Linked DNA regions of Homo sapiens. Each later gene encodes a partner of the first gene's protein in a complex. Each region holds a gene or a part of one and is shown in the gene's direction. Other genes may lie near its edges.

What was found.
Region 2: THOC7 (region 1) and DDX39B share a complex: the UniProt entries of both Homo sapiens proteins name them as parts of the transcription/export (TREX) complex.
Region 3: the proteins of THOC7 (region 1) and THOC1 are in contact, whole or in part, in a cryo-EM structure (PDB 7APK), measured with the Homo sapiens proteins. Residues at the interface, in NP_079351.2 of Homo sapiens: Tyr47 (codon at 1,323), Gln51 (codon at 1,335), Leu54 (codon at 1,344), Ser55 (codon at 1,347), Ser58 (codon at 1,356), Gln59 (codon at 1,359), Phe62 (codon at 1,368), Gly65 (codon at 1,377), Lys66 (codon at 1,380), Leu69 (codon at 1,389), Val70 (codon at 1,392), Met73 (codon at 1,401), Arg76 (codon at 1,410), Glu77 (codon at 1,413), Asn80 (codon at 1,422), Ile84 (codon at 1,434), Ile88 (codon at 1,446); in NP_005122.2 of Homo sapiens: Leu10, Arg14, Glu46, Gln53, Arg56, Glu60, Ile63, Ile64, Asp99, Asp102, Cys103, Leu104, Pro105, Arg146, Gln151.
Region 4: THOC7 (region 1) and SARNP share a complex: the UniProt entries of both Homo sapiens proteins name them as parts of the transcription/export (TREX) complex.

What each region holds. Positions count from the first base shown.
Region 1 is NC_000003.12:63,833,358-63,839,820, reverse strand, and holds the end of THOC7 (THO complex subunit 7), read left to right. Parts: intron 1-47; coding exon 48-165; intron 166-1,321; coding exon 1,322-1,449; intron 1,450-1,758; coding exon 1,759-1,845; intron 1,846-3,462; coding exon 3,463-3,520; intron 3,521-4,430; coding exon 4,431-4,497; intron 4,498-4,597; coding exon 4,598-4,667; intron 4,668-5,621; coding exon 5,622-5,689; 3' UTR 5,690-5,951; downstream 5,952-6,463. UniProt on the Homo sapiens protein: Component of the THO subcomplex of the TREX complex which is thought to couple mRNA transcription, processing and nuclear export, and which specifically associates with spliced mRNA and not with unspliced pre-mRNA.
Region 2 is NC_000006.12:31,531,988-31,539,014, reverse strand, and holds part of DDX39B (spliceosome RNA helicase DDX39B), read left to right. Parts: intron 1-159; coding exon 160-252; intron 253-2,331; coding exon 2,332-2,515; intron 2,516-2,565; exon of another isoform or gene 2,566-2,641; intron 2,642-3,529; coding exon 3,530-3,648; intron 3,649-6,103; coding exon 6,104-6,235; intron 6,236-7,027. UniProt on the Homo sapiens protein: Involved in nuclear export of spliced and unspliced mRNA. Component of the TREX complex which is thought to couple mRNA transcription, processing and nuclear export, and specifically associates with spliced mRNA and not with unspliced pre-mRNA.
Region 3 is NC_000018.10:216,042-223,068, reverse strand, and holds part of THOC1 (THO complex subunit 1), read left to right. Parts: intron 1-4,099; coding exon 4,100-4,183; intron 4,184-6,435; coding exon 6,436-6,583; intron 6,584-7,027. UniProt on the Homo sapiens protein: Component of the THO subcomplex of the TREX complex which is thought to couple mRNA transcription, processing and nuclear export, and which specifically associates with spliced mRNA and not with unspliced pre-mRNA.
Region 4 is NC_000012.12:55,758,713-55,765,739, reverse strand, and holds part of SARNP (SAP domain-containing ribonucleoprotein), read left to right. Parts: intron 1-5,099; coding exon 5,100-5,189; intron 5,190-7,027. UniProt on the Homo sapiens protein: Binds both single-stranded and double-stranded DNA with higher affinity for the single-stranded form. Specifically binds to scaffold/matrix attachment region DNA. Also binds single-stranded RNA. Enhances RNA unwinding activity of DDX39A.

The sequences.
Region 1 (6,463 bases):
GAAAGTTACCAAGAGCCAGATGGTAACATTGCCCTTCTTTCCTGCAGACGAAGTTATACGGAAGCGTCTCCTCATTGATGGAGATGGTGCTGGAGATGATCGGAGAATTAATCTGCTAGTGAAGAGTTTCATTAAATGGTGCAACTCTGGGTCCCAGGAAGAGGGGTATTTCATTTTCACTGTTGTTTCCATACCAGTGTCCTAATGTGATTTTAGGCCCTATATTAAGGTCCTGTGAGTAGATCAAATTTTCACTCACCTTAAATGTACAGTGGAGTCAACTCTTAATTAACCAAGAGTAGATTTTCTTGGCCTTTTCTTCTCTTCAAAGGCCTCTCATATGTTTATTAAAACATGGAGAAGGCAGATTGGTAAGGAGAAATGAAGATTAAATTCAGACTCATTAGTTTGGTTACTTTTAGGACATAAGTGTTTAGTAAGATAAAATATCTAAATGGAATTTTCTCCTTTGCTAATAAAAGGCTGCTGCTATGTATGTATATATTAAGTTGGTGCAAAATTAATCGTGATTTCTGCCATTAACTTTAATGGCAGAAATGGCAGAAACCACGATTACTTTTGTACCAACCTGATACACACGCACACACGTATATCTAATCTTTTTTTTTGTGAGACAGAGTCTCATTCTGTTGTTCAGGCTGGAGTGCAATGGCACAATCTTGGCTCACTGCAACCTCCGCCCCCCAGGTTCAAGCAGTACTCGTGCCTCAACCTCCTGAGTAGCTGGGATTATAGGCATGCAACACCATGACTGACTAATTTTTGTATTTTAGTAGAGATGGGGTTTCACCATGTTGGCCAGGCTGGTGTCAAACTTCTAGCATTAAGTGATCTGCCCACCTTGGCTTCCCAAAATTCCAGAATTACAGGCATGAGCTACCACGCCTAACTATATTTATTTATTTTTTAACATAGCAAACTTTTTCTCATTTGAATTTGCTTTCCATATAAATAATTTTATAGAGTGAAAAAATTGTGGGAACAGAATTGTGAAGTTAAAAAAACATCTTAAAGTATTTCTAAAGTCTTTTAAACAAAATTCAAATAATTGTTTGAATAAAATGTGCATTGATAAGAACAACAATCCCACCTTTGCATTTGTAACTAAAGTAGTTAAATTCAAGAATACTACATTTGATAAAAAGAAAACTTAAGGGACAGATATTCTAAATTTTAAATAAGCAAATGATTCTCTCAGAACTTGCTATAATTTAATTAGCAAATATTTGTCTGCATTATAACAGTTCACTTTTGTCAGTCCACAAATATCTTTATTTTGGTTTTCTTTCTTTTTCATTAGATATAGCCAGTACCAACGTATGCTGAGCACGCTGTCTCAATGTGAATTTTCAATGGGCAAAACTTTACTAGTATATGATATGAATCTCAGAGAAATGGAAAATTATGAAAAAATTTACAAGGAAATAGGTAAAGAATCTTAATGTTTCTATCTGTAATTTTATTTTTTATGGTCTAAAGGAAACAATACCTGCTAACAATTTTCTTTGGTGGTAAAAGAATAATAACAATTACTGTATTAATGGAAAGAATACAGTAAATGTTAGCTATAAAAAATGTGTATTCTAAGATGATATAGTACTTTGGGTTACAGCTATTTTTTAAAAATACTAGTGTCTATTTTGTTACCAATAGAGGTTAATTTATAAATGCGTTTTAAAATTAAAAATGGATTATTGATTTTGTTACAACTATCTTTTAAAAAACCTTCTCATATAGAATGTAGCATAGCTGGAGCACATGAAAAAATTGCTGAGTGCAAAAAGCAAATTCTTCAAGCAAAACGAATACGAAAAAATCGCCAAGGTAAGGGTTTTGAGGGATTTAATGTGCAAATACATTATTACTGACTACAGTTTTCATGCAGTTTTTAATGTTGTGAGGTAAAATCTGCAGCCTGAATCAACCTGGATTAAAAAAAATCCAAATTTTAATTCCTTAAAACTATATTATTCTTTAAAATAGAGAAGGAAGTCTGTGTTGAGAAGAATGTTTTTGCTGGATTACATTGATTATCCAAGTATTTCTTTTCTGTTTTTCTCTTTTTTTTTCTTATCCCAGTATTTCTTAAGTATTAAATTTTTACCATCTTGGACCCTTTTGCCTAAATAATGTTATGGTTAATCAGCAGAGGCAATTTACATAAATATACTAGATTTATGGTTTGGGTTTTTTGTTTGTTTGTTTAATAGAGCTACTTTCCAAAAAATGAAATGGAAAAGAATTTAAACTCTGAGTTTTCATTAAGTACAAAGCAAGCAAACATTTCTAGACTGCCTAGAATATCTAATAAGAAGGTTAAAGTTGAGTTTTGTTATAATCTCTTGTTTTTAAGTTAGAGTATACCCTTATGTAGTTCCTAAATACTATTTCAAGATAATTTTTAATGTTAGAGGCACTGCTCTTCTTATAATGTAAATTGAAGAAAAGTAAAAATAAAAAATATAATGTGTAATCACAACTGTTACATTGATATGAAAAACTAGAAGAAAATAGAAAATGTTAATGGTTATTTTGAAGTTGTGGGTTTTTATGGCTTAGGTTCTTTTCTCTGTTTTTGTGTTGTTTTGTTTTGTTTTACATAGGGCATGTATTATTTTGTAATTCAAAAAATTTGTATCCAAAAGAATCATACTTTGAATTAATATGCTCAGTTCTAAAACAATGAATTTTCACTTTTTAATGAACTAATTAAGATGAAGCTTAATTTCCTCTTTTTACAAGTTTTTTTTTTCAGTTTAAAATGTGTATGGTGAAGTTTTGGTGCCTTATTTACAGTAACATATACCAACTTAGTATCAGTTCTAAAGTCATCTAAAAATATTTTGCAGTGTTTTCGTTGGTTAATGAGGCTTTTAAGTAAATCCTGCCACTCATCACTTCATAAGAAAGCTTAACAGGAGTTACATGACTTATCTTGGAGGTCTCAGTGGAGCAGAAAATAGAACCTGAATTTTAAGTTATTTGCAAGTTTCTGAAATCTTAACTTTTGGAATGAGTGAGAAGTGTAATTTGCTGTTGACTAACAACTCAGATTAATGGTAGGATATATTCACTGATTGTATTTTATTTTATTTTACTTTTTGGACAACTAGTGAGTAAGATCCTTCTCAGAATCAGTCTATTTGATAATCAATAATAACTTAAATTTGCTTATGCTTATGCTGACCTCTTACGTTCTGTCCAGGACATATAAATGGAAAAAAAGTGGGAGCTAAAACCCCTGTTTGGAACACTTTTGATGTTATGTATCGTTATAATTATAACTCAGTTAACTAAAACTGGCAATACTCATCTTTCAGTGATTTCATTTCTTGATGTACTAGGAAAGTGATTAGGAGAGGTTTGTGATATTACACATTTTGTTTTGATAATTCACATTCAAAAAATCCTTAGTTTGATAAATATTTTTATGTCTTACAGAATATGATGCTTTGGCAAAAGTGATTCAGCACCATCCAGACAGGCATGAGACATTAAAGTAAGTGTAGAGCTTTACTTTGAAAGGAACTAACCTTTATACATAAATGCTCGAAAACTACCGTAGGCATTTCATTTTTGCAGAAATAAATATGTTTCAAAAGGAGGGGTCAGATATTCAATATTATATTTTCCCATACTTCTCTGTTAGATTTTATTTTCCTCTAACCTTACCAGCTATATGTCTAAAATAAATGCATATAATATGCATCAATATCACAATGGATAAATAGAATATGGTCTTCATATATTAAAATATTGAATTTCAGTTAAAAAGAATAAACTAGTTATGCCCTTTTAAAACACAGCTCTCAAAACATAATCAGTGAAAAGACACATAATAAACTTTAAATTATATTTAAATTCCTGAAACACATACAGAATAATAACCATTTATAAAAGTTAGAACCCCCTTTCAAATATTATATACCAATACTGTGTATTATTCAGGGATACAAGTATATGCATAAAAAAGAATAAGAATGATATAGTAGTTGCCTGAGTGGGAGGTAGAGGAGATAAAAAGGCCCAGGATAGAGGACTAGGCGTAAGATTCAAAGGGTATTTCGAGTTAATTGGCAATGTTTTATTTCTTTTACCAAAATAAAAAACCCTCGAAGTTAAACTTCACAATATGTATCATTTCTTGGGTCTTGTTATTCTGTTATCTGTATTTTTCTGTACTTTAAAAATGGATCCAAAAATGTAATTTTAATGAAAGTGAGTCCATATTTAGAAGTTAAGAAGAAATCATCCTCAGCTTTAAAAGTTTCACCATAATGGAGTGTTATAACTCCTTATAAGCCCTTTTTTTATTTTAAAAATCCTATCTAGTAACTTAAAAGTTAGGCATTAATTGTAAACTCTTCTCCCCCATTCAGCAAAATGTAACACTGTTTTATTATTTCCAGGGAACTAGAGGCTCTGGGAAAAGAATTAGAGCATCTTTCACACATTAAAGAAAGTGTTGAAGATAAGGTATTCGCATATATATTTAGCCTTCATGATCTGTCTATCTGTCTGTCTATATATCTATATATACAGGTCATTTGTATAAATTTTTTTCTTGTTAACACAGCTGGAATTGAGACGGAAACAGTTTCATGTTCTTCTTAGTACCATCCATGAACTTCAGCAAACATTGGAAAGTAAGTAGAAATAGTCTCAAAGTAAATGCTTATGAAGATTTTTTAAATGACCCAGGGATGTACCTTTTGAAATATACATCTTGGAGAGACAGTATACCTTCAATTTCTGAACAGTGTAGCTGGATGACGTTAGAAGGTACTCATGTTCAACTTTCTTGAATACATGTAGAAAAGTCTTAATTTGTAGTAATATAGGATTTAAACATATACATAGTGGTTTAAATTAAGAAAAATTCAAGGATGATAGATTTGGAATCTTTCTTGGTTCACTGTAGTTGACTACTATAATATAACAACTCAGGACCCAGGCAGGCAATAATAAGAAATCAGTACATACGAACATTTGCATACCCACTGAGTAGTGGGTGCTTTGGGGAACTGGAGACTTGCTCTTTATATTCACTATAGGCAAGTGGAAATTTTTGTGTTACCTGATCTTCTGATTGTTTTAAAGAATAGCCTAAGACCCATTTTTTCTTTTCTTTTTTTTTTTTTTAAGACAGTCTTGCTCTGTCACCCAGGCTGGAGTGCAGTGGCACAATCTTGGCTCACTGCAATCCTCACCTTGCAGGCTCAAGTGATTCTCCTGCCTCAGCCTCCCTAGTAGCTGGAATTACAGGTGCATGCCACCACACCCAGCTAATTTTAGTATTTTTAGTAGAGACGGGGTTTTACCATGTAGGCCAGGCTGGTCTTGAATTCCTGACCTCAGGTGATCCACCTGCCTTGGCCTCCCAAAGTGCTGGGATTATAGGCATGAGCCACCAGACCCTGCCTGGATTTTTTTTTTTTTAAGTGAAGTCTATCACATAAATTTTAAAGTTTGATTCAACTAGTAGCCATCTTAGCTTTAATTGTATTGGCTAATAAAGGATAAACATGTTTTCATGTGTTCATCGAATATAAAATATAGGCAAACTTGACTAAGGTTTTATGTTTCCTTCTCAATTACAGATGATGAAAAACTCTCAGAGGTAGAAGAAGCTCAGGAAGCAAGCATGGAAACAGATCCTAAGCCATAGACAGGCTAATTGCCCACCACTCCCAGGAATATTGAAATAGCTACATGACCATAATGTGTTTAAAATGTGGTATGCTCTTGAGATATTTAAAGTTTTGGCAGTAAAATACTCTGTTTTTAAGTATGAATGTATTTCATTCATATTTCCTCTCACAAAGGAAAATGACTTCAGTATAGATTTGTTTTTATTAAAATGCATTTTTTATTCTTAAGTGGTAGGAAGCAACATCCAAAAATGCTTAATAAAATGCTTTTAAGCTGCATATGTTTGTGCTCATTAATATTCTAGGTAGTTTTTAACTGGTAACATTGATTGGCTTACAAAATAAGTTGAAAATTGTTAGAAGTTGGCATTTCTAGGATGTACATGGGAAAATGAGCCAATTTCTGGAAATGGTTACACTTCTGAAAACGGAGTCTATGAAGAGGCTTTAGGAGGACCATGAACCTGTGAAATTACATGCAAAATGTTAGTGGTGTATGCTTATTGTGGAGAGAGGTTCCAGGCTGTTAAAATTCGCTGGTATGGGACGTTAATTATAAGATGCAAAGTAAAATAGTGCACATTACTTTATATATCTCTCCTTAATATGAGAGGAATATGGTTCTCAAATGTTTTGTTGATCTGTTTTCTCTACTGTTTTGTTCTTTAGGAATCATTTTCAATAGAAAAAGATGTATTGATAAAGTGAAGAGTGTTTGAAGTAAATAGTTTGTTAAGATTGTTTTGCGTAGGCCAGGCATGGTGGCTCACACCTTTAATCCCAGCACTTTG
Region 2 (7,027 bases), on another chromosome or scaffold:
GTGGGGGATGTTCTGTCGCAAGCGTGGGGTTCATGATTTAGATCACATAATTGAAGTCATTTATTATCGGCCCAGGTGTGTTTTTGTGACAGTCACTTCCCTAGAGGGGATAATGAAGAGCTACATTTACCATATGTCTCCGTCTACTTCCTGCCTAAGGTGTCTGTACTGGTGATGTGTCACACTCGGGAGTTGGCTTTTCAGATCAGCAAGGAATATGAGCGCTTCTCTAAATACATGCCCAATGTCAAGGTAAGCCAAGGTAAAGAGACCTGAGAGTGAGGGTGTGGCAAGTTGGAGGGATAAGAAACTTGTAGGCCAATAGTCTCTTTAATTTTGGAGAAGCTTTAGTTTGCTGTGGTGTAACAGAGTGTTGAGTTCCTATGTAACAGGAGGATTCGTAATTGGGCTATGGATGATGCTTAACACAAGACCACCCTTTTCTTACTACTTTATACTGACTTTGAATCATATCAGTTTAATAATTTTGGGGTATGTGGCAGAGAAAGCCGGAAACTTTAAAACAGCTCCAGTGGTGTGTGAATATTGAGGATTCTGGCCAAGTGCACAATGGCTTACACCTGTAATCTCAGCAGTTTGGGAGGCCAAGGCGTGTGGATTATTTGAGGTCAGGAGTTTAAGACCAATGTGGCCAACAGGATGAAACCCTCTCTCTACTAAAAATGCAAAAATTAGCCGTGCATGGTGGCACACACCTATAGTCCCACCTGCTTGGGAGGCTGAGGCAGGGGAATCGCTTGAACCCAGGAAGCAGAGGTTGTAGTGAGCTGGGATTGTGCCATTACACTCCAGCCTGGGTGGCAGAGTGAGACTCCCATCTCAAAAAAAAAGAAAAAATCTGATTGAAGTTAAGCATTTTTGGCAAGAATCCTTCATAGGTGATACTGTATCTCCTGTTATGCCACAAATCTGGTCGACTTATGTTAGTTATTTTATTTTATTTTTATTTATTTGTTTTGAGATGGAGTCTCGCTGTGTCCCTCAGGCTGTGAGTGTAGTGGCGCGATCTCAGCTCACTGCAACCTGCGCCTCCCACGTTCAAGCGATTCTCCCGCCTCAACCCCCCGAGTAGCTGGGACTACAGTGTGCCATCATGCCTGGCTAATTTTTGTTTTTTTTTAGTAGTGACAGGGTTTCGCCATGTTGGCCAGGCTGGTCTCGAACTCCTGACCTCAAGTGATCCACCCACCTCGGCCTCCCAAAGTGCTGGGATTACAGGAGTGAGCCACTGCACCTGGCCTCATTAATGATTTTAGATTTACCATAGGATTAGCGTCGTGACAGTCTGATTCCACAGTTGTTCTTTTCCCCCTTGAAACCAGAAAGTAGTTTCTGGTGTTATTTGATACTGTACCAAGGCCCAGATCCCCAAACAACTATTCACCTAATGGTTTTAACATGAAATGATAATATTTAGCCCGAAGCAGTAATTTCATGGGGTTTGTGTGAAAAGAGTTTGAGATTCTGGGTTTATTTAGGAAACCTTAATGTTCCATGTGTTTTTTGTGGTACTTTACACTAATCTGGTGATTTCTTGCTGTCCTTTATTTATTTATTTTTTATTTTTTGAGATGGAGTCTCGCTCTGTCATCCAGGCTGGAGTACAGTGGCTCAATCTCGCCTCACTGCAATCTCCACCTCCCGGGTTCAAGCGATTCTCCTGCCTCAGCCTCCCGGCTAAATTTTGTATTTTTTGTTTTTTAGTAGTAAATTTGTAAATTTTGTATTTTAGTAGAGATGGGGTTTCACCGTGTTGGCCAGGCTGGTCTTGAACTCCTGGCTTCAAGTGATCCACTTTCCTTGACCTCCCAAACTGCTGGGATTACAGGCGTGAGCCACTGGGCCTGGCTTTATTTTATTTTTATTTATTTTATTTCTTTTTGAGATGGAGTATCACTCTTGTTGCCCAGGCTGGAGTACAACGGTGGGATCTTGGCTCACCACAACCTCTGCCTCCCAGGTTCTCGTGCCTCAGCCTCCTGAGTAGCTGGAATTATAGGCGTGTGCCACCACACCTGGCTCCTTTATTTTTTAAATGAAGCCTGGCCTCATAAATGAAGGAAGTTGGTTAGATTAAGTCAGTAGAACTGAATTATTGTCCTGACTGCTCCGACTAGCCATGTAACTTTAGGCAATCACCCTCAGTGTTTGGTGGGGGGGACATAAAATTTTTAAATTAGGTGCCCTCTAAAGTTAGTTTTAGTTTGGAAACATGCTAAAAATTGGTTTAGCTCAAACAGAGTGGGAACCCTGGGGGGATTGGACTCTTTCCTTCCTCTGTTTTGAGACTCTTTGCTTCTGGCTCGGCAGGTTGCTGTTTTTTTTGGTGGTCTGTCTATCAAGAAGGATGAAGAGGTGCTGAAGAAGAACTGCCCGCATATCGTCGTGGGGACTCCAGGCCGTATCCTAGCCCTGGCTCGAAATAAGAGCCTCAACCTCAAACACATTAAACACTTTATTTTGGATGAATGTGATAAGATGCTTGAACAGCTCGGTGAGTGGCAGTGCTGGGGCTTGGCTAATGCTGGGGAGTTGTTCTTTGGAGCCAAATGATGTTTATTTGAAACAGGAGCACCTCAGTGCAAGGACGACTCTTATCTATCACCCATGACTGATGGCTCTGGGTTCCCTGGTTGGTCTTTATTATGCTTTTAAGCACAGTAAAGGGTGTCATCTATCATCTTTCTATGATTTTTGTTTTTAACCTTTGAGAATAGGGGACTTTGATAATTTTAGGCATAAGTCATCACCACCACCACCGTTTTCATTATAGATTCATATACTGGGAGTCATAGCGGAGATTCTAAACTGAAAGAGAAGACAGTACCCTTCTGGCATCTCCAGCACAGCATTTACAGTCAGAATTTATAGCTGAATAAGTGTCTAGACTCAGGTCTGGGATTAATGTAGAGAGTGTTTGTAGCAGTTTGTGTGATGTGGTATTCTAGTGTGCCAGGTGGGGTTAATGGAAGATTTTTCTGTAAGAATTGAATCTTGGTGAATGAGAGTGGGGTTGGACATAGGCCCCATAAGTCATTACAAATGATCTTTGGCAATTCTATATGGTGAGCTATAAAGGTGGGCTCCAGGTAGGGATGTCATATTTGCCTGACTTGATAGAAAAGTAATCCAGAGAGTCATAGATGGACTCTGATATCTGGAATATAATATGTGCTTGATATTTGTAGTCTGCTGAAGGCTGGCTGGGGCTTGGGCAGGAAAGGGTTGGGAGAAGGTCCCATAAAGCATGTTTTGAAGGCCTTGAGAGCCTCTGCACTGGGCTTTATCCCCATTTCATAGTTGGGAACTTTGGGGTTTTACCTTATTTCTTGCTTGGTTAAAACAAACAGCTGGAATCTGATCCCACTTCTTGATTCCAAGTCCATTGCTCTTTCCATTGTGTTGTTACTATTTCCAGCAATCTTCACCTCACTGGGAAGTCTACCTCTAATCTTTGTTTATCATACCTGCTTATTTTCTCCTACAATTTTTTTCCTTGTTCTTGTAGACATGCGTCGGGATGTCCAGGAAATTTTTCGCATGACCCCCCACGAGAAGCAGGTCATGATGTTCAGTGCTACCTTGAGCAAAGAGATCCGTCCAGTCTGCCGCAAGTTCATGCAAGATGTAAATACCCTTCTACCTTCTCTCCCTCCACTCCCCGCCCGCTGCCTCCTCCCCTTCCTCGCCCTCTTCCTCAGACTCCCTTGTCATTCAAGTGCCAAGAAGGCGGCTTGTGCCCAACTGGGAGTAATGACTCCTTGAAGAGACATACAGAAGCAGAGACAGCTAGTGTTAGGGCCTGCGCGGGTGCCAGGGAAACTCCGGAAGACTTGGTCGGGTTAATGTGAGAGCGGGTAGTGTTCGACTTTTTCATAAATCACAACATTTTTGAACCTCTTCTCCCTTTGGGGGAGGGCAGGATTTTTCTGCCCTACCACCCACCCATCCATCGTCTCTTACATGCACCCTACAGCCACGCACCCTCAAGGTGGCATCGAGCGTACAGCTGGAGCCTTCTGCTCACCAAAACTCCTACTTCCCGGTGGCAGGAGAGCAAGAGAGGGACAGACAGATGGCAGGGCATGTCCAAAAGAAGAGCATCAGCACAAATGAATCCTCCCCTTCCCCACCTCCAGGGGTGGGGGCCTTTGGCACCTCAATCCCCGATACCCTACTCCTTCCCACCCACATCTCCTTGCACCCATCTGGAACCTCGGTTGATGTGAGCCGGCAACAGAGAAGCACCGTGGCGCGGCGAGGGAATGCAGACGGCACCCAGCGGTGGATGGCGGCAGCGGAGGCCGCGGGGAAACCTGACCAGGAAGCTGAGGACCAAACCAGCCTCTTTTTCCGTTCCCGGTTTTTTTCCTGAACCCAACGCGTGCCGTGCCCCGTTTCCCCCAATATGTGTTGGGGAGGGGTGTCCTGAATGGGGTGGTAGATTTTTTTTCTTAAAAAAATTTTTTTGTTTTTTTTAATACTCAGAGGAGAGGGACATAGGAAAGGTAAAGTGGATGTAATCGGGTGGTTGTTAGGGTTTGGGGCTAGGTGGGGCCAATTGCATAAGCAGTGGAGTGTGTTCTTCCCCTCCCTGCAGTGTTCCTTCCCGTGGGATGATCACTCTTTAGCTGTATTTGGGGCTAGAATGAGATTTGAAGGAGGCCATGGAACTTCTCTTTAGAAAGCCTGCCTTGGCTGGGCCTGGTGGCTCACCTCTAATCCCAGCACTTTGGGAGGCCAAGGTGGGAGGATTGCTTGAGCCCAGGAATTTGAGACTAGCTGGGGCAGTGTAGTGAGACTTTGTCTCTACCAGAAAAACCGGGCGTGGTGGCGCATGCCTGTAGTCCCAGCTACTTGGGAAGCTGAGGCAGGAGGGTTTGCTTGAGCCCGGGACGTGGAGGTGGCAGTAAGCTGTAATTGTGCCACTGTACTCCAGCCTGGGTGATAGAGAGAGACCCTGTATCAAAACAAAACAAAAAACAAAACCTGCCTTCTGGGATTGGGCTTCTGGTTTTTTTCCCATGACACACGCATCCTTTCCTATTTTGTCCTCTGGGTCTTCATATTAACTATCTTCCCCCAGGATAGTATAAAAAGTGTTAGGAAAGTTGGGCTTTGGAGTTGTGGTAATTTCTGTCTTTGTTACTTTCCTCCCCTTCAGGGGGTTTTTTAATTTTAAAGATGAATGCAGTGAGGTATAATGGTGTGTGCCTGTAGTCCCAGCTATTCAGGAGACTGAAGCAGGAGGATCACTTGAGCCCAGGAATTTGAGGCTATAGTGTGCTATGATTGTGCCAGTGAATAGCCACTGCACTCCAGCCTGGGCAACATGGTGAGATCCTGTCCCTTAAAAGTGTATCTGCTGCTCTGAATTTGGTATTTTAACACCACTTACTGATACCTTTCCTGTAAACCTGTAGATGGTTTAATTCTTAGTCAAGAGACCAGTCTCATCTAAAACTATCCTGTTGTGGTCTGACGGCAAGTAACTCATCTTGAGTAATTTTTGTTTCTCCTTAAGTGGCATTTTGACTGTCCATTGCAGCATTCTGATCTTAAAAGACATCCACTTTGCTAATGCACACGAGATTCTCTTAGTTGAAGTAGGAGAATCAAATGGAGCAGTTGTCCTCCCCCCACCCCATGTTCTTAGAAGCACCTCTGATGGAGTTATTCTGACCTTGAGTCACTGCCTCCCATCATTTCCCAGATGTTTGGTCCTTGCTCTCCCTTTGAGAATCATCTCCCATTTTCTTTCCTCTCCCACCTCTATTTGAGGTAATGGCATCTGTGCCATTGGGTGGTTTCACTGCTCCTTGACTTCATTTGCAGTTTCTTTCCCATGATAGTTTTTAGTTGGGCAGTCTTAAAACTCATCTGATAGGAAGGAAATTAGATGTAATGTGAGAGAGACCACAGTAAAATGTGGGTATTTTTGGGAGTGGGGTGGGGTTTTCAATCTTCTCTTTCCTCCCCATCCCCCCATGGGGTGTATTGGAGATCAACTTCCTCCACCCCCCCAGGTTTAACCCCCCCACTCTGCCCTCCTCCCGTTCCCCACCCCCTTCCTCCCCCCCAGCCAATGGAGATCTTCGTGGATGATGAGACGAAGTTGACGCTGCATGGGTTGCAGCAGTACTACGTGAAACTGAAGGACAACGAGAAGAACCGGAAGCTCTTTGACCTTCTGGATGTCCTTGAGTTCAACCAGGTCAGTTAGACGTCCAGTAGGGGGATGAGCATTGGAGCACTCCAGCTGTAGCAGAAACCTGGATATTAAGTACACTTTTATTGAGGAAATCACATGTGTGATGTGGGAGAGAATAATGAGGGTATAAATATCTTAGGGGCTGAGCATGAGTAAGGTGGGAGCTGCTTTTCTATTCTATGGCTGGCACGGGTATGTCCTCAATAACCTCAAGGAAAATAAACTTCAAAAATTAAGATCCTTGGCCAGGCACGGTGGCTTATGTGTGTAATCCCAGCACTTGGGGAGGCTGAGGGAGGTGGATCACTTGAGTCCAGGAGTTTGAGACCAGTCGGGGCAACATGGCGAAACTTCATCACTACCAAAGAAGAAAAAAATTAGCCAGGTGTGGTGGTGTATGCCTGTAGTCCCAGATACTCTGGTGGCTGAGGTGAGAGGATAGCTTGAGCCCAGGAAATTGAGGCTGCAGTGAACTATGATTGCACTACTGTGCTCCAGCTTGGGCAACAGAGTGAGATCTTGTCTCCAAAAGTCCTTGAAGGATTTTAGGAAGTTGTTAAAAGTCTTGAAACGATGTTTGGGGGCATGTTAGGGTTCTTGAATGTTTAATTCCTCTAATAACTGCTTATTCAAGAGAAGCATTTCTGACTGGGTGCAGGGCAGTGGCTCATGCCCATAATCCCAGTACTTTGGGAGGCTGAGGCAGGAGCATTGCTTGAGCCCAGGACTTCAAGACCAGCCTGGGTAACATAGGGAGACGCCCGTCTCTACAAATAGTAAAAATAAAAAATAAAA
Region 3 (7,027 bases), on another chromosome or scaffold:
CATAGGTAAAGTAAGAATTAATGGGTTAATTAATGATTAAGAAATCACCCAGAAAGCAATACAGAAGGAGCAGAGTTAGAAACGATGACTTAATGATAGTTGAGGAGGTCCAGCAAACATCTGATGGCAGAAAGAAATAATAGAGAATGGGAAAGAGGCAATAATTGAGTTAATTATTAAGAATAGGCATGAATTCATAGGTTCAAGAAGTATAATACTTAAGGAGGATAAACCAAATAAATCCATATCTCTGTACATGATAATAAAGTCACCAGAGAGAAAAAACAGACAACCTACAAAGGAGCAAAGTTAAACTAACAGTTGACTTCAAGAACAACAAAAATCAGAAGACAGTGGGATGAGTGCTTGAAAATGTCTTTCACATTCTCTATTATTTCTTTCTGCCATTAGATGTTTGCTGGACCTCCTCAACTATCATTAACTCATCGTTTCCAACTCTTGCTCCTTCTGTATTGCTTTCTGGGTGATTTCTTAATCATTAATCCAGTAATTCTTACTTTCCCTATGTCCAGACTGCTGTTAAACCTGCTCGTTTTGTAAATTCAATGACTATATTTTCTCATTTCTAGAAGTATTACTTGCTTTTTCAACATTTCAACTAAAAAATTCTGTAACAAGTTAAACAGTTGTGGTTGAGTGATTGACTAAAACTATGAGAAATTATCAACAGTCCCCAGTAAAAAAGCTGTCTTAAGGAAACTGAACCCAGAAAGGAGTAAATTGCAGAAAGGATTACTGTGTAGACACTTTGGTAAACATGAAGAAATCTGAATAAATCTTATCAAGAATTCACTGTTATAAAATAGTAATAATTATTATTTAGGGTTATTTTAAAAGGTAAACTTGATAAAAGTGACATGTAAGACAAGAAGGGGTGGTCAGAATTAAAGAATGTTATGGTTTAAGTCAAACATGCTTGTAAAGTATGTGAAAGAAATGGAATATGTAATTTTTAAATAAATTGAGGGGTAAAAGTAAATACAGAAAATTTAAGCAAGTAAATTAGAAGGTAGGAGAGGAGGAAAAAAGCACAGAAAACACAACAGAAAGTACAAAACAGTATGGTTAAATTCAAATATAAATGGAAATGGACTTTCTGGCTCAAAGACAGAAATTGGTGTTATATTTTAAAGATCTATCGGCCAGGCGCGGTGGCTCATACCTGTAATCCCAGCACTTTGGGAGGCCAAGGCGGGCGGATCATGAGGTCAGGAGATAGAGACCATCGTGGCTAACACGGTGAAACCCCGTCTCTACTAAAAATACAAAAAATTAGCCAAGTGTGGTGGCAGGCGCCTGTAGTCTCAGCTACTTGGGAGGCTGAGGCAGGAGAATGGCGTGAACCTGGGAGGCGGAGCTTGCAGTGAGTCGAGATCGCACCACTGCACTCCAGCCTGGGCGACAGAGCGAGACTCCGTCTCAAAAAAAAAAAAAAAAAAAAGATCCATCTATATGTTTATAAGAAATATACCTTAAAAATAAAGATATGGAAAGGTTGAAACTGAAAGAACTTTTAAAAGACGTAATTTTTAAAAGGCATAGTTATATTGATATCAGGCAGAAAAGGCTTAAAAGCAGAAAGCATTATTAAAAATAAAGGCAATCATTGCATAAAGATAAAAGGAAAAAATAGAAATATACACATTTTAAACTTTATTTTCTAAGAATGTGTTCTCAAAAATTTGACAAAATTAGAATGAGAAGTTGACCCAGGGTCAGTTTTCACCATCCACCACCACCCAGAAAACCTACCATCTAGTAGGATTTTGACAGACCTTTCTCAGAATTTAATAAATTTGGTGGAAAAAACTTAGTGTAATACATTTAGAATTTAACAAAATAATTAACAGGCTTGGTCTTACAGAAACCACAAGTTTTTGTAAATTATGTGTGAATAGCAAAAGCAAAAATACTTACAACTCCTTTAAACACACTTCTAAATAACCCTTGAATCAAAGAAGTCATAATGGAAATTGGAAAATGTAGAGCTAAATAATAATGAAAACACTACATGTTCAGACTTTTGAGATCTAACTCAGTAGAACACAGAAGAGAAATGTATAGCCTTAAGTGTTTACACTTTCAAAAAGAATGAAATCTAAAAACCAAGCTAATAAGAGTCTGACACTGAGAGTCATTCAGAAGAAAAGTAAACTCATAGAAGTAGAAAGTAAAATAAGATTAGAAATCAGTAAAATAGACAACAAACAATAGAGAAGATAACAAAATCAAAAGAGAAGATCAATAAAAACAAAAACCAGGAAAAATAGATAAAATTCTAACATGATTGATTCCTGCCAAATCTGTGAGAGTGAATCAACCCAGTAGAAAAATGTACAAATGAATAGTCAGATTCAGAAGTAGAAACCTTAATAAACCTCTGAGAAGACGGGGAACTTCACTAGTAACTGGAAGTACAGTTAAAAACTACAGCAAGCAGTTTCCAGCTAAGAGATTCAGTAATTTAAAAATACCCAGATTTTATAAGAATTATGGATAAAAATAATTTGCCAGTGCTGCTGGTAGGAGTCTGATGGCACAGTCACTCTATCTGAATGTTAAAGATGTCTGTGCCCCACTAGTAGGTGTGTTGATCAGAATAGTGTTTTTAAAAACTAAGTTTGAGAATCATTGGTGGTTTGTAAAGTCAATTTAGTAATTTCAACTAGCATTTTTTAAATGAAATAGGAAATATACTTTTGTGAAGCATTAGCTTTACTTATATATATCTGTACATATACTTGCATATATGTGTGTACTGGGTTGCAGTGTAAAATGAATTTCTTATTGTGGGTTGCAGTGGAAGTTTGAAGGCCCAGTGCCTAAAGAAATCAGTTCATCTACAAGGAGACAGGTGCAAGAATGTTCATTTAACATTGTCAGAGCAAAGAGTGGGAAGACAAATATCTCTGTGTAGGACATGGATAACTTGGGGCATGTTCATAAAATGGAATATAGTATCTGTAGCATTAGAAAATGAATGGATATTGGGATAGTTTTCTTAAAAGAGCCCATTTTCCTAGTTTTACTCTAGAAGATGTCTTCTGATCCTGAGACCTCATTTCTTTGCTTGACCCTGTATCAAAATTTTATTTCTAAAAACAAATTCAAGAAAGATGCATTTTAAAAATCAACCATGCTACCATGGTAACAATTTAAATAAGAGCTAAAGGTTAAACCCTTGAAATCGTATTATGGTCTGATTATTAGTTTTGGTTTAATTCTGGTTTAAAGAAAAAATAATTCGTGGATAGGGACTTAATGTAAAAGTTTATTTGCTGGTAAAATTCAAATGCTATAAAATACCCTGGCTGCCCTCTTTGAATAGCAACATATTTATATATTATAGTGTGTAATTAAAGTATATAATATTATATGTAGTAAATACTATGTAATATTTAGTATTAGACTATCCCCTTTATTTATTGTCCTTTTTGAATTTAGTTTTGACGGTTTTACTTCCTTAAAAGTCTGGAGTTCCCACGTAATCAAAACTGTAACTAAAAGTATGGGGCCATTAGAATCTTGTCCTGCCACCACTTTATGAGTATTTATTATTAAGAGTATATGCCATCCTCACTGGTTATTTTGTACCGCTCAGGGAACACATGCCCACAATCTTGTCCTGCCACCACTTTATGAGTATTTATTATTAAGAGTATATGCCATCCTCACTGGTTATTTTGTACCGCTCAGGGAACACATGCCCACAATCTTGTCCTGCCACCACTTTATGAGTATTTATTATTAAGAGTATATGCCATCCTCACTGGTTATTTTGTACCGCTCAGGGAACACATGCCCACAATCTTGTCCTGCCACCACTTTATGAGTATTTATTATTAAGAGTATATGCCATCCTCACTGGTTATTTTGTACCGCTCAGGGAACACATGCCCACAATCTTGTCCTGCCACCACTTTATGAGTATTTATTATTAAGAGTATATGCCATCCTCACTGGTTATTTTTGTACTGCTCAGGGAACACATGCCCACAATCTTGTCCTGCCACCACTTCATGAGTATTTATTATTAAGAATATATGCCATCCTCACTGGTTATTTTTGTACCGCTCAGGGAACACATGCCCACTTTGGAGGAATTCTTTGAAGAAGCCATTGAACAGGCAGACCCTGAAAATATGGTGGAAAATGAATATAAGTAAGTATGCTCCTCATTAGCTCCTTTTAATTTTCTTCAATTTGTTTCTTCCTTAGGAATTGTGTGTATACTAGAAAGCCTCTTAAGAGAGGCAGTAGATAGAATAGTGCTTTTTCTCTTAGGTGAGTTTATGTTCCAAGTTCTTGTTAGTACACATCCTGATTTCAAGGATTATTCCTGTTAACTAAGCATGACTTGGAATCACCCTTGTTTCAAAATATAAGAAAAAAAAAACTCCCCCTGATCCCCATTTCTCTCCAACTATTAGTTCTGTTCTCTCTACCCTTCAAAGCACAGTATCTCACAGCAGCTGTTAACCTATCCTGTTCCCCTTAATGTTTTCTTCTCTTGGCGTCCATGAGAATCCAAATCCATGGTTCTTCTGTTTGCCCTTTGCCCTCGTTGCCCACTCCACCTCACATTCCATTTCAGCCTCCTCATCCTCTGCCTAACTCAAATTTTGGAGTAACATCAGGAATTGGTCTTAGCCTCTTTATCTAGAACCTTCTGGGTGACACCGCAGTCTCATGGCTTTAAATAGGAATTGAAGAGTAGTGGTTTAAAGGCAAGAGGCCTCTGGTCAGAATGCATAGGTTCGATTCCCTCTACCACTTACTTACTAGGCAACTAAGGCTAATTTAATTATTAAACCGCCAGTTCCCTTTCCTCATCTGTTAAATAGTAACAGTACCCATTTCACAGGGTTATTCTGAGGATTAAATAAGACAGTGCACTTTGAACCCTACAGGGCATGTGGTTAGCACTCAGTATTTGTGACTAGTGTGACCCTGTGACCAGAGTTGTTAATTACTGTGACCTCTTAACTAATCTCTCTAGTTGTGGTCAGTGCTCCATGCATCAGCCAGTGATCTTTAAAATAATTGTCCAAGTCTAATCTGCTTAAAATCTCCCAGTGAGTGCCTATTCCAAACTCCTTCCCAGGGCCTAAAAGACCTCCTTGGTCTGGCTCATACTCTCCTGTGTGGCCATGCCTCCCCTCTGCTTTAACCACAGCAGGCCTCTTGGTCCTGTCTTTCCCTTTCCTGTCAGGACCTTCACACTTTACTGTCTCACTTGCTTGAACCACTTTTTCCCCAAGGTTGCCGTGGCTTAAAGTCCCCCTGGCTGGGAAGCTCTTCCCCTCCCTGGTCTCCTCTTTTGCATTCTCGTGGTTTTTATTTCACGGCACTTACCACTATCCAAATGAGAAGGTGGCACTTACCACTTTCTCATTTCTCAAGTTTTCCTCATCCTTATGAAATTGTCTTATACCTTGTGTGTTTATCACTAGCAATGCCTGCCTTACTGTGCCTCAGGTACTCTCCACAGCTACTGAGTGCCTGGCTCAAAAGTGTTTGTCGATTGAAAGAATATTAATTTATCACTGTTACATAAGACTAGGTGGACTCATTCCTAAAGTGATAGTTCAAATTATTATCTCCAAAGAGGGTTTTGTGGAGAATAAGAAAAATGATGTGTATAATTGACAGTGAATTTTGAAAATGCCTAAAATAATCAAATTGTCTAAACAGATATGTCAGAGAGGAAGGCTCTTAACTGTTTAGGCAAAGCCTCACAGCAGGTGTTAACTTGGGAAGAGTCCCCAGTGTCTATGGGTAGTTTTTGTTAAGTCTTCAGTGGTACCTGCACATCCTAAAGGTAACATATGCTTATTTATAAGAGGTGACCAAATAAACCAAATTGCTATTCTTAGGGGAGGAAGAGACTTCCAATCCAAAACTCTTAAATGGAATAAATTTGTGGTTTGGTTTCTTCCGCAGCATTGCATATTTCTGACGCATTATCTTTAGAATTTCTCTGCAGTTTGTTTCTCACCTGATGGTATACCACCCTGATCATTGTTATACTTCATTAGGGAACAGTTCATGGATTCCAAATAGCTAGATGGATGATTCCTGTTGTATACGTACTGCATCCAGCCAGTACTGCACACACTTGTTGACTTGTTAAAATTAAACAAAATGAACGGAAACTTTGAAAATGTGTTTGCTGCATATGAGCCTGCCTCTTCAGGCATTGTTGGTTCCTGTGATTAGTTACATGTGCATCTATTGGTTTGTTATTATCAGTGGACTACATACTGAAAAGTTCTTTAGGAATAAGATTCAAATACAAAGAATGGCACTTTGAGCTATTTACCTTAAATACAGAATTACACATGGCAGAACTGAGCAGAAGGGAATACAGAAATACAAAGCTATAAATTACAAGCCTGACACCTCTTTTTATAGGGCTGTGAACAATTCAAATTATGGTTGGAGAGCCCTGAGACTATTAGCACGGAGAAGCCCTCACTTCTTCCAGCCAACCAACCAGCAGTTTAAAAGTTTACCAGAATATCTTGAAAATATGGTAATAAAGCTAGCCAAGGAATTACCGGTAAGTACCATAGATCAACTTTTCATACCCTTTAGTTGACATCTTCTTTAAAATTGCTGTCACTATGTGAGCAAAAAACTGACTTAATCATGTGAAAAACCAGTGATCCACAAGCTCCCATGTTTTAGAATGAGGGAAAAACACATTGGAATATACATTTACAGGAAATACATGAGTTGATAAAGAAGTAACTGATAATTTTCTGTACAGCATGTAATTTAAAGTTCAACAGGGCTGTGGGTGCGGTGGCTCACGACTGTAATCCCAGCACTTTGGGAGGCCGAGGCGGGTGGATCATGAGGTCAAGAGATTGAGACCATCCTGGCCAATATGGTGAAACCCCGTCTCTACTAAAATATAAAAAATTAGCCAGGTGTGGTGGCACGTGCCTGTAGTCCCAGCTACTCAAGAGGCTGAGGCAAGGGAATTGCTTGAACCTGGGAG
Region 4 (7,027 bases), on another chromosome or scaffold:
TGTTGTTTTCCCCTGGAACCCCTAATGGGTTTAGAACAGATGCTCTGCCTGTATCTCCTGAAGAGGCACCAAAGATCTTGTTTAAAAGGGAAGCTAGGCTGGGTGTGGTGGCTCATGCCTGTAATCCCAGCACTTTGGGAGGCGAGGTGAAAGGATTGCTTGAGTCCGGGAGTTTGAAACCAGTCTAGGCAACATAGCAAGACCCTGTCTCTATTAAAAAAAAAAAAAAATTAGCCAGGCATGGCACATACCTTTAGTTCTTAGCTACTGAGGAGGCTAAGGTTGGAGGATTACTTGAGCCCAGGGATTCAACATTACAGTGAGCCATGATCATGCTACTGCACGACAGCATGGCAACAGAGTGAGGCCCTGTCTCTAAAAAACGTGGGCAGCGAGGCAGGTGGCTAATGGGGAAATCAGACTCCCCATTTGAGGATATAGCCAAATAAAGAACCAGGAGAAGCAAAACTGGCCCGCACATTCCAAGTGGACATACGTTGGGGGAGGGCTTGGCCTCAGGGTTTGTGCTTATATAATGTCTGGGTTTCAAAAGTCTTATCTCCTCTGTGATTTGAACTTGCTGAAGTACTGCTAGTGCTAAATTGAATGGAAAAAAGTTTATAATGGTAGTTTAACAAGATAGTGGTCTAGTCTTGCCTCTCCGCAAGAAGAGAGGCTCCATTTATTTTCCTGAAAACTGTTTCCTACTTGGCCGGGAGACTTAGTGAAGATATATCAACTAGAACATTCTAGAGGTTCTCAACTTGAAATCCCCATTTATATTCCGTATTCACTTTATCTTAGTGGTAGTAGATCAAGGAAACTTTCCCCCTTGACTTTGTTAGTAAAAAATGTGGTGGGACTTAATGTTTGTTGGAAACCTTCCTTTTTTTTTTTTTTTTTTTTTGTGAGACAGAGTCTGGCTCTGTTGCCAGGCTGGAGTGCAGTGGCGTGATCTTGGCTCCCTGCAACCTCCGCCTCTCGGGTTCAAGTGATTCTCCTGCCTCAGCTTCCCGAGTAGGGACTACTACTCGCCACCACACCCAGCTAATTTTTGTATTTTTTTTAATAGAGATGGGGTTTCACCATGTTGGCCAGGATAGTCTCTATATCTTGACCTTGTGATTTGCCTGCCTCGGCCTCCCAAAGTGCTGGGATTACCGGTGTGAGCCACTGCGCCCAGCCTTATTCTTTTTTTTTTTTTTTTTGAAATGGAGTTTCGCTCTTGTTGCCCAGGCTGGAGTGCAATGGCGAGATCTCGGCTCACCGCAACCTCCACCTCCCGGGTTCAAGCGCTTCTCCTGCCTCAGCCTCCCAAGTAGCTGGGATTACAGGCATGCGCCACCACGCCCAGCTAATTTTGTATTTTTAGTAGAGGCGGGGTTTCTCCATGTTGGTCAGGCTGGTCTCGAACTCCCGACCTCAGGATTTTAGAAGATCCTTCCTGGGATTTTCTCAAAGTGGTGGGATTACAGATGTGAGCCACTGCTCCCAGCCCCTTATTCTTTTATTACATCTCAACAAATGGAATAGCCAATTAAGCAAAATTAGAACCAGATTTAGCTGAGAAAAACATTAGTACAAGATTACTAACTGGAGCCCTTTTCCTAGATACTGTTACTTATAAATTGTAGGTATATGGTACGTTAGAAGAAGGGGTCCTAGTATTCTTGACCTGATTATTTGAGTGATGTGATTAAAATTTACAAGTTTTTTTAGCTAAGGGTTCTAGTGATCCTTCCTCCTTGGGAGTTAAGCACTTAATTGTCCTACTGTTCTTCCAAAGAAATACTTAAGTGAGATACCTTGAGGAGGTGGTAAGGCTAAGAAAGTGGATTCCTGAGTAAAATGTCCTGGATTCCAATCCTCGTATTATTTGTGAAATTTTGGGTGAGTCACTTAATCTCTCCAAGACTAAATTTTCCTATCTATGAAATGAATTTAATTGCTGTGCCTACTCCATAGGATTATTATAAGAAGTAAATGATGCCAGGTACAGTGGCTCACACCTGTAATCCCAGCACTTTGGGAGGCTGAGGCAAGAGGATTGATTGAGCCCAGGAGTTCAAGACTAGCCTGGGAAACATAGCGAGATCCCCCTCTCTGCAAAAATTAAAATAAAGTAGTAAATGAGCCTGGATGCAGTGGCTCACGCCTGTAATCCCAACACTTTGGAAGGCGAAGTGGGCGGATCACCTGAGGTCAGGAGTTCGAGACCAGTTTGGCTAACGTGGCGAAACCCCATCTCTACTAAAAATACAAAAATTAGGTGTGGTGGCGTGCGCATGTAGTCCCAGCTACTCAGGAGGCTGAGGCGGGAGAATCCCTTGAACCTGGAAGGTGGAGACTGCATTGAGCCAAGATGGCACCACTGCACTCCAGCCTGGGCGACAGAGCGAGACTCTGTCTCTGGGGAAAAAAAAAAAAAAAAGTAGTAAATGAGATATTGCATGTGTAAAGAACTGCACACAGTACCTGGCATATACTAAGCACTCAGATGTTCATGGCTATAATGTTATTATTTTAATTTATTATTATTAAGGACAAGAATACTTATGTTTTTCTTTGAACCTGGCTTAATGTTTTTACAATAGTTCAGAGTACATTAATGAGGTACCCGCTATGGATTTGCTGGTGGTCATAATGAGAAAGGCAGAAAAACTGTGTAGGCAGTAGTTTATTCTAGTAATAAACTGTGATTAAATGATAACTTGTATAGGATTCTTAATTGCTTCATAACCATCATTCTTTCTTAGGTCTCTTCCTACTCACTAGAAAGCAGGTGCAGCAAAAGGGAGAAAATGAACATCTTTCTCAAGCTGAAAGAGTTAAAGACCAAGACAGTACTCCTGCCTGCTGTGTTCAGACAGGTGGACTAGTTAAATTGAGCACAGAAAGCTGGATAGCTGCCCTGCTTTTGATTTGTACAGGTGGCTGCTGTGGCCACAGGGACAAAGACAACTCCTTGGTTGGGGTTGAGAGTAGAGGCATTGAAAAATTGCTGTATATTTCTGTAGGTCTTTTTGTTACCTTTGCTTTTGACCTTGTAGTTTTGGGACACCCAGAGACACAGCCTGCCTATAGACTGTAGGACTATAATTTCCTTGGGATTTAAAAACAAATCCAGCTCAGAAGCACCACACAGACATTCTTTAAAAGTTTGTTTGAGGCCAGGCGCAGTGGCTCACACCTGTAATCCCAGCACTTTGGGAGGCCAAGGTGGGCGGATCACCTGAGGTTGGGAGTTCGAGACCAGCCTGACCAACATGGAGAAACCCCGTCTCTACTAAAAATACAAAATTGGCCGGGCATGGTGGCACATGCCTGTAGTCCAGCTACTTGGGAGGCACAGGTTGCAGTGAGCTGAGATTGTGCCACTGCACTCCAGCCTGGGTAACGAAGTAAGACTCTGTCTCAAAAAAAAAAAAAAAAAAGTTTGTTTGAACTCTTTGGAGACGGAGTCCCACTCTGTCTACCCAGGCTGGACTGCAATGGCATGATCTCAGCTCACTGTAACCTCCGCCTCCTGGGTTCAAGCTATTTTCCTGCCTCAGCCTCCCAAGTAGCTGGGATTACAGGCACCTGCGGCCATGCTTGGCCAATTTTTGTATGTTTAGTAAAGATGGGTTTCACCATGTTGGCCAGGCTGGTCTCCAACTCCTGACCTCAAGTGATCTGCTTGCCTTGGCCTCCCAAAGTGCTGGAATTACAGGTGTGAGCCACTGTGCCCTTGTTTGAACTCTTGCTTATCTGTCCTTCTGTTGGGTTAACAACGTAAATAAAGTCAAAGAAACTGTCCTGCTCTTTAGTGAGGATGGGTACATCTCTAGGGAGTAGAGGGTCTCTTGAGATTATGAGAGAATGAGATCTTTTTATATATGTGCCAAATTTTAGAAAGTCCTTCCTGGGGGAAAGACACCCGAGGAGCCTACCTGATTTCAGATGTTTTCTAATCCTGAGGCTGAGCTTCTGATGACTGGTGATAAGATGTGAGGGGGAGGTGGAGAAAGAGAAAATAACTGTTAAAGTGGGCTAAATAAAATGGTAGGGTTTAGGTTCTGATAGGAAAATATATAGACTCTTATACTGAGCAGTGTTGGACATGAATGATACAAAACACCTAGAATAATGGCGAGCTCCAACTCATGGTAAACTGAAATATTCTCTCATTCCCAGGCAGACATCATGAGTTTCACAGATGCTTGGAAAATGTCCACAGCATTTCTCTTAGAGAGTTGACCATGGCTGTCACCTTGATTCACCTGTTTTAAGAATCATTTCAAACTATTCAGAGCCTTCTATGGCTTTGCTGGGTGTTTCAAGCAAATAAGTTTTTCAGAAATACCACTCTGGCCCTCTTCCCCTTTCTTTCCTTGGTAACGTGTAAGCATTGTTCAACAAGTAGTTTGGGTACCTTCTAACTAGGTGTTACTAGGTGTAACTTTGGGTGTTATTCAGTGAAACCTCAGTTTTCCATATCCCTCAACTGCCAGAATTGCTTGAGCATAGAAATTTGTTTTATGGGTGTTTCTTACTGTTTATTTTATTTATTATTTTTTTTTTTGAGACAGAGTCTCACTCTGTCACCCAGGCTGGAGTGCAGTGGTGCAATCTCAGCTCAGTGCAACTTCTGCCTCCCAGGTTCAAGCAGTTCTCTGCCTCAGCCTCCCTAGTAGCTGGGATTACAGGCGCCCGCCACCACACCCAGCTAATTTTTTTGTATTTTTAGTCGAAATGGGGTTTCATCATCTTGGCCAGGCTGGTGTTGAACTCCTGACTGCCTGATCCACCCGCCTCAGCCTCCCAAAGTGCTAGGATTACAGGTGTGAGTCACCGTGCCCGGCCTCTTACTGTTTCTTTACCCTACTTGTCTTATGAGTATTGAGGCCCTGCCTAAAATTAAGTTTTTAGTCATTCTAGGTACAACATAGTATATGCTAGCTTATTCAGTTTCTTATGTATCTTATCTCTTTATGTGATCCTTAGTTCTTGGCACAGGGTTGGTTAGCACCTTGTGACCAATAAGTTATCATTTCATTCCCATTTACTTGGTGAATGGAGGCTAGTTTGTTTCAACTCTTTCCTTTGTCCTTGAACAGTCTGAAGATGATGAGAAACTGAAAAAGAGGAAGGAGCGATTTGGGATTGTCACAAGTTCAGCTGGAACTGGAACCACAGAGGATACAGAGGTAAAAATATACCTGGAACGCTTCATAGACCTTGAAGGGAAATTAGAGTGAATAAACTGAATGGAGAAATATTGTTTCCCCACCTATTTATTTATTTATTTATTTACTTATTTAAGTCGAGTTGGGGTCTCTGTTGCCCAGGAAGTGAGAGTGAATAAACTGAGTAGAGAAACACTGTTTTCCCACCTACTTCTTAATTATTTATTTATTTAAGTAGAGATGGGGTCTCATTCTGTTGCTCAGGCTGGTCTCAAACTCCTGGGCTCAAGCGATCCTCTGCACTCAGCTCCCAAATTGCTGGGATTATTATAGGCATGAGCCACTATGTCTGGCCACCCACCTACTTCTTAAGTGTCCAAATATTTTGCTTTTTTCTTGATAACTTTTTTTCTGGGTGAAGTGGCAACACTGAATTCCATCAATATACTTAATTCAGTGTTAGAGTCTGTTAGACTAGTGGCAAAGAGTATAACGTTTGGAATCAGGTAGGCTTGGATTCTAAAATTGGCTCTGGGCTGGGTGTGGTGGCTCATGCCTGTAATCTTAGCACTTTGGGAGGCTGAGGCAGGCAGATCTCTTGAGCCCAGGAGTTTGAGACCAGCCTGGGCAACATGGAGAAACCCTGTCTCTACTAAAAATACAAAAATTAGCTAGGCGTGGTGGCACACACCTATAGTCCCAGCTACTCAGGAGGCTGAGATGGGAGGATCACTTAAGCCCAGGAGGTCAAGGCTGCAGTGAACCTGGATGGCGCCACTGTACTCCAGCCTGGGCAATAGAGTGAGACCCTGTCTCAAAAAAGAAAAAGGCGGCCGGGCATGGTGGCTTACGCCTATAATCCTAGCACTTTGGGAGGCTGAGGCAGGCAGATTACCTGAGGTCGAGAGTTCAAGATCAGCCTGGCCAACATGGTGAAACCCCATCTCTACTAAAAATACATTTATTTATTTATTTATTTACTTATTTAAAAAAATTAGCCAGGTGCAGTGGCATGTGCCTGTAATCCCAGCTACTCTGGAGACCGAGGCATGAGAATCTCTTGAAACCGGGAGGCAGAGGTTGCGGTGAGCCAAGATCACGCCACTCCAACATGGGCTACAGAGTGAGACTTGCTCTCAAAAAAAAAAAAAAGAAAAGAAAAAGGCTTTGCCACTTAGTATTAATAAGTTACAGTACTTCCTGAGCCTCAGGTTTCATCATCTAGGAAGTGGAGATAATAAAACCTACCTCAAAGTTTTATTTAAAGAGTGAAACGATTCTGTATAAAAAGGGATAGTTTTAAAATATTTAATAAGAACTGGTTGTGCCTAACTCATTTCTGGAAAAGGACAGTGGACTCAAATGAGACTTCCTGTTCTTGTCACTTTGTTTACAGATAGTTTCTCAAAATGAAAGAATCCCAGCACTTTAGGAGAGCAGTGTGGGAGGATCACTTGAGGTCAGGAGTTGGAGACTAGCCTGGGCAACATAGTGAGACCTCATCTCTACTAAAAGTTTAAAATAAATTAGCTGAGTGTGGTGGCATGTGCCTGTAGTCCCAGCTACTCCAGAGGCTGAGGTGGAGGTTGTAGTGAGCCCAGATGGCACCCCTGTACTCCAGCCTGGGCAACAGAGCAAGACTGTCTCAAAAAAAAAAAAAAAAAAAGTATATTAGGCTGTTCTTGCATTGCTGTAAAGGAGAAATACATGAGACTAGGTAACTTATGAAGAAAAGAGGCTTAATTGGCTTACATTTCTGCAGGCTTTATGGGAAGCATGGTGCTGGCATCTGCTTGGCTTCTGGGGAGGCCTCAGGAAGCTTACAATCATGGTGGAAGGCCTTAAACAGCCATATCTGG